Homo sapiens: one gene and its partner. The protein of the gene in region 2 purifies or fractionates together with the protein of the main gene of each other region. This does not show direct contact. Each region holds a gene or a part of one and is shown on either strand. Other genes may lie near its edges.

What was found.
Region 1: the proteins of TIGD7 (region 2) and MMP3 purify together in Homo sapiens (affinity purification with mass spectrometry; one large-scale study listed by BioGRID and IntAct). This does not show direct contact.

The regions. Positions count from the first base shown.
Region 1 is NC_000011.10:102,835,301-102,837,955, forward strand, and holds the end of MMP3 (stromelysin-1 preproprotein), read right to left. Parts: intron 2,102-2,655; coding exon 1,998-2,101; intron 1,467-1,997; exon of another isoform or gene 1,138-1,466; intron 927-1,137; coding exon 826-926; 3' UTR 501-825; downstream 1-500. UniProt on the Homo sapiens protein: Metalloproteinase with a rather broad substrate specificity that can degrade fibronectin, laminin, gelatins of type I, III, IV, and V; collagens III, IV, X, and IX, and cartilage proteoglycans.
Region 2 is NC_000016.10:3,298,308-3,302,430, forward strand, and holds the end of TIGD7 (tigger transposable element-derived protein 7), read right to left. Parts: intron 3,703-4,123; 5' UTR 2,308-3,702; coding exon 658-2,307; 3' UTR 501-657; downstream 1-500. Other genes in the region: ZNF263 (zinc finger protein 263), read left to right, coding at 799-803.

The sequences.
Region 1 (2,655 bases), on a different chromosome or scaffold from region 2:
GGCATTTACATCCAGGCACAGGCAGATACAAAATGAGTACAAGAGTATATTTTACCATGTGAATAGGGTAGATATGAGGAAGTTTGCTTGCTAGGTCAGGGGAGGGACCTGCACTGAGGGAATTTATAAGTAAAAGGAAAAGATGAAAAACAAGTCTGATTTCCTCACCCTGTAAAATGAGATGTGCAAACAAGGCAATTTGCTATGATTATAGGATTCCCTTCACAGTTTTTCCTAGAGCCTGCTCTACAATGTCACAACCCCTCTAGATTTTTTGCCTTAGGTATGTCAGGACACATAAAATGTCTAGGTGGTAGAAATAAGCATCCTGTTTGCAGGGCTCATGAGGAGGGCAAGTGGTAGATTCTCTGCAGTTCTGGAACCCATTGTGAACCCCAAGCCATGGAGACTCTAGTCTACTGGCTGAGCATGCTCAGCCCATAAAGTGCCCAAATTATGAGAACAACTTGCCCTTGAAACAAACAAACACAACAATAAGATAAAATAACTGACAAATCGTCTTTATTAAATAAGCAAATAGTCTACACAGATACAGTCACTTGTCTGTTGCACACGAGTGCTTCCCCTTCTCTTGGGAAAGATCACTCTATGTGACAAGGTGCAAGCTAAGCAGCAGCCCATTTGAATGCCCTGTAATAACATAAAAATGACCGGCAAGATACAGATTCACGCTCAAGTTCCCTTGAGTGTGACTCGAGTCACAGCACAGGCAGGAGAAAACGAACATTTCAATTCACAGAGACTTAGGTGAAGAATTATTAGCTTCATTTAAAGTGCCCATATTGTGCCTTCTACATATCTCTTTCAACAATTAAGCCAGCTGTTACTCTTCAAAGTGTGTGTCACTTTCTTTGCATTTGGGTCAAACTCCAACTGTGAAGATCCAGTAAAGAAATAAAAGAACCCTGCAAATACAGACAAGGGAAATAGTAAGATATTTTTCCAAATAAAGACATTTGACAATATACAAAACTCAGAATCATAGAGAACTAAAAATAGAAAGTGTTTATAGAGCTTTACTTTATGTCAGGGACTATGCCAAGCTTGTTACATGAATTTATTTTCATTTATTTCTGCAACAACCCTATGAGGTTGTATGTCTAACTCCATTTACAGATTGAGCAAGTTGAGGTTGAGACAGATTTCGATGCTTCCTCAAGGTTACTCAGCAAGGAAGAATGGAGACAGCACTCGGTGCCAGCTCTGTCTGAAAACACAGCCAGATTCCAGGTTACAGGGTTATTCTGCTTCCGATCAGATAAATTCTCCACTTGCTTGGAAACTCTCATCACCTATTTCTTTCTTCCCCAAAAATCCTCCTCCCTTTTCCCTGCATTGCAGCCTAGGAAGCACAGCAACTATTTCAAAACACCAGGGGACCCTTTAGTGCTCTGCAAACATGGTGATCAGGTTACCTTTCAATAAAGATCATCAGCCTCCACTTCCTTACCTTGAGTAGAAAACAAAATCTTTTTTTTTTTTTAAACTTTGGGCACATGGAAAGGTAAGTATTTGCAAATGACTGGCATGGGCAATGACTGACAACTCAGGAAAGACAGACAAAAAATCTCCCTGGGAATTAGTAGCAGCAATAAGATAGGGTGGAGGAGAAGGCCAGCTAACCAACATTAAACCTGGCCACACCACTTGATGGGATTTTTATGCTAACATGGTAATCTGAAAGTCGAGCTTGACTCCACATGTTAGCTCGAGATGTAAGTGACACTGGAGCACTTTGATTTTATATGCATGTATAAGATAAAGTAGCGAGATTTGTGTAATTATCTTTATGGTTCCAAACAAGTTATTTTGTGAAGTAGTTCTATAATGAGTACAAATGTAGGCGAATCAAAATTTTGAGAAGGGAACTGGCCCTAAGAAACACTTGTTATTAAAAAGTTTCAATGCTCCTCTTCCCTCTGATATCATAAAATGTTTCAAGTGCTCTATGGCCAACACAGTAAGTATCCTCTTACCAAATTCTTCAAAAACAGCATCAATCTTTGAGTCAATCCCTGGAAAGTCTTCAGCTATTTGCTTGGGAAAGCCTGGCTCCATGGAATTTCTCTTCTCATCAAATCTGTACCAAGTAAAAGAAACAGCTCAGCATTGCATAGAGGCCATGTTACCGAACATCTTAGATCATGTTAGGTTTAATGTGGAATTTTACTAAACTTTATAAATACTGCAAATAAATGCCAAGCATATTTGGGACTATAGAAATATGTGACTTTAATGGTACTGTAAAGAGTTCTGAAAGCCATATCTCCATCCGGAACAGGGGCCGCATCCTGCTGTATGTAGCACATGCTGTTTGTCATCATATTTCTTAAGCCTGGACAGAAAGAACCTTAATCATCTTTCTGTCACAAAGACATGAAAGTGTGAACATATATATAAAGTGAATTGAATCAACATCTAAAATGCAATTTTAATTCCCTACCACAATTGGCCCATATATGCCTGCTGTCCCCTCCCCTGCACATCTAAATCTTCTCTGGTGGCCTCCTGGGAAAAGGGATTAGGATAAGAAGCAAAGCACAGTAAGTGTGTTTTTAGCCCATTGGCTGGATATCAGATGGTCGGCCTCGATGTCTCAAAGTCTGGCCAAATGACCCAGGAATCAACCTGTCT
Region 2 (4,123 bases):
CATTATTATGAAGACTAACATATATATACGATCCTATATACTCAATAAATGCTAACGTATTAGTAACAAACCATAAAATATGTTAAGACAGTAAGAGATAAGGTTTTATTTACAATGTAATCTGCCTATTTAAAAAATATATGGTATACACCGAAGTGTTGAGGTTATCATTAGTCAATAGAATTGAGTGCTTTTTATCTTTTTTTATATATTCCCTATAATCAGCATGTTACTTTCACAGTAAGAGGAAAACAAACACTAAATAGGTAGTAACAGAGTTAAGAAAGCAGAGTGTGTTTTACCATTAAATTGAAAACCTAATTTATCCTTATCTTAAAGCTAACTAGAACTAGTCAGCACAGTTTCTTTGTTATACGATATGATTACAAACTAATGCTTTTCGCAAAGGCATTCCACCTTAGATAATCTGGGACAATACTTCATTATTCAGATCCTTGTGTAAAATTTAAAAAAATGAATTTATGAAACACAAATTTAAATAAATTTAAAGAAACACAAATGTATTATTTTCAAACTGTAAATTTTATAACCATTATATAAATGGGCACTGATATACAAAATAATGTCAGTTGCTAAAACAAGACAATTCACAGCTGGCCTACATCATATAATGGCAGAAATCTTTAAACACAAAATCTAATGATTAGAACCAGAAGTTGAAGGCCCACTGAAGGAGTCCTTAATATTATGAGGCCTAGGTTTCAAAAAGCTACCAATTCTAGAATGGATTTTACTCTGGAACTGTTTCTTGACTATTTCTTGTTGCATCTCTTTCAGTGTGAAGTGGAATCTCTGAAACTCAGGTGTGGCATCAACAAAGTCAAGAAGGTAGTCCAAACTCTCTCTTACAGCAGATAATTTAAATTCAGCAGTCTGCTTCTCAGCTTCTCCTCCTTTTTGAACAACTTCCTTTGTTATTCCACCTTTGGTTTTTAGGAGACAACCCTTTTCTTCATCTCCATTTAACCACACCCTATCATCATCCAACTTAGTTTCCAACTCCCCACATTTTTCAAGAATTTCTCTATAATCCCCATGTTCTAAGCCTTGAAAATCATATTCAGGTTCCTTTTTGTAAAGAAGATTTTCCCATGCATTTGCTATGGTTATTTGTTTTACTTCTTCCCAACTTTTTGCCCAGTTAAAAATTGCACTTTTTATATTGTAGATTTTAATTTTGGAAACTCCTTTATCTCCTTTCTCTTGCTCATCATCACTTTCTTCAAATATTACAAGACTCTCTTCAAGTTGCTTCCATCTATACAGCCGTTTGCAGCTCAAGATCACACCTTGATTCATTGGTTGAATCAAGGTTGAAGTGTTATGGGGGAAGAACATACATTTTATTCGACCATCCTCACTGGTTAGGGATTCAGAGGAAGGATGAGCCGGGCAACTGTCCAGAAGTAACAATGCCCTGACGTCCTCGTCATGAAATCTTAGAACATTAAGTTGAAAATGTCGGACCTCAGGAACAAAGTTTTGAAAAAACCATTCTGAAAACAATTCTCTGGTGAACCAAACATCTTTACTGGGTTTATATATCACAGGCAATGTACTTGTGTCCTCTTTCACACTTTTGGGCAGTTTTGATTTTCCAATAATGATTGACTTTAATTTATGAGTTCCGTCTGCATTTGCACATAAAAAGGCAGACAACCTTTCTTTGTTTATTTTCTTCCCTGGTAGGCAGATATCTTTCCTACTTGCCTGAGAATTTTCTGGCATTGACTTCCAAAAGAGGTCTGTTTCATCCCCACTGTATAGCTGAGCTAGACACAGTTTCTCCTCTTTGATTATCATGGACAGTTTTTGTCGAAATGGCTCAACATTTTCAGAAACTGAACTTAGGACTTGTTCCCCACATCCTTTTCGGTTCCCAATTGCATGCCGATTTCGAAATCTAAAAAGCCAACCAGTGCTAGCTTTGAAATCTGTTCGCCCAAAACACCGTGCAAATCTCTCTGCAGCAGCCTGAAGCTCCACGCCTCTTACCGGAACACCGGCTGAGCGTTTCTGTTGGTACCACATGTAGACCGCATCATCTACATCACCATATTTGGCTCCCGTTGTCCTCTTTCTCTTCTCAGCCCCTACTAATGGCATGTCCTGCTTCAGTACAAAGTCCAGAATTAACTTCTTATTTTTTTTAATGTCATAAAATGTTGACTTACTGATTCCAAATTCATCCATTACACTTTTAAGTGATCGTCCAGCTTCAATTCTACTTAGAACCTTCATTTTCTCCTCCAAATTCAGTGTTGTATATTTCCCTCTCTTATTCATACTGAATTTAACTCTGAACCACCAACAGGAGAAAACAAAGGGAAAAGCCTTAATGAATTGGCAAAAAAAAAACCCACATTTTTTAAACAAAACTTAGCTGAAAGCCCCAGAAGGCATGGGCATTGTATTGGAGGATAATGGACTGAAGGGGCTAACCATGACTGAAGAGCTAGTCTAGAGGTGGAGGTCTTATGCACTCAGAAAGCTGCCAGTTGCAAAGTCCTGTCTGGCTCTTGCTCCTGCAAGCCATGAGTGATCATTTTTCAGAATGCCCCCTACCTCTCCTCTCTTTTGACAGATACAACAGCCTCAGTCAGGAATGACAGGAATACCTGCATACTTTCCCTAACTCAATACCGGAAAACGGACAATATGAAGAGAGGAGGGATGGAGCAAGATGTGCCCACAAGACAGGTGTGATAAGTTTCCATAAAAACTGATGCTTCAGAAGAAGGGAGCGTGAAAGACTCAAAGGCAATGACAGAGTAATCTTGTGTGTAGCAGAGATGCAATGTGGCTTCTCCCCTTCCAAAAAGACCTGATTTTACCTCACTGCCAGAAAAGAGAATGGTGCTCAAATTGCTTTGTACATAGTGTTCACTGGGCAGCAGTTCATCTACCTGGATAAGGGCTCCGAGCTACAGGGACCCTGACATTGGGATGTATGGAGAGTTGGAATTCAGGAACAGTTGTACCGAATCTTGAAGTGAAGAAGAAAGTAGTTTGTTGTACATATGAATGAAATCCAACTTTTATTGCATTCAATATAGTATTGTCAAGCACCGTGCTTTAACTTGAATGTCTCTTGTGTTTGCCAAGGTAATATGTAAGTATGTAAATAATTTATTTGTCAGTGGCACTTTACCATTCTCAGATCTTCTTTCTTGGGAACATCTGATTTATTCTCAAGTGCTATTTTTCACTGAAACTGTTCTCTATTTGAGATATTATCAAGTTTCAGAATCACAGCAATTCTCAGAGATGAGCCCAAAAGTTTTACAAATATTTCACCATAGTTAAAAATTTTTAAAGATCTGTCCTTTCATTTGTTTTCCTAAATTTACACTATAAGTAACATACTTTTTATATTTGAGATTTTGATTTCTCTTCAGTGTTTATTTTACTTAATTTGAACCAAGACTCAACTTTTCCACAGAAGAAATCTAAAAGGTTTCTCTGCTGCTGTTTCTGATCAATTGTTTCTCATAAATCCTACTGGCAAACTCTTCTGTCCCTCTAGGCCCTCAAATACTCTTTTCGGGTCCTCCTGGTGCTCCCCAAAGCCATTCCAGGTCCTTAGAAATGTCTTAGTCTAGATTAATTTCCTGGTTCTCAGTCCAGATACACAACCTCATGGGAAGAAACAAAAACTGCCACTTTTATCCATTCCAGGTGCTACGAAGAAAGAAAAGTATGTCAGAGAAATAAGGGAAATGGCTGGTATCTCAGTTATTCTTCCTCTTCTTTAGGGCAGAATCTGACTGGCCCATTCATTCCTCAACTACATAGAATTCTCTCTCTTTTTTTTTTTGAGACAGAGTCTTGCTCTGTCACCCAGGCTGGAGTGCGATGCCGCCATCTCGGCTCACTACAACCTCTGCCTCCCGGGTTCAAGCAATTCTCCTGCCTCAGCTTCCTGAGTAGCTGGGACTACAGGTGTGTGCCACCACACCCGGCTAATTTTTGTATTTTTTTGGTAAAGAGGATTTCACTATGTTGGCCAGGCTGGTCTCGAACTTCTGAACTCATGATCCGCCCGCCTCAGCCTCCCAAAGTGCTGGGATTACAGGCGTGAGCCACCACACCTGGCCCATAG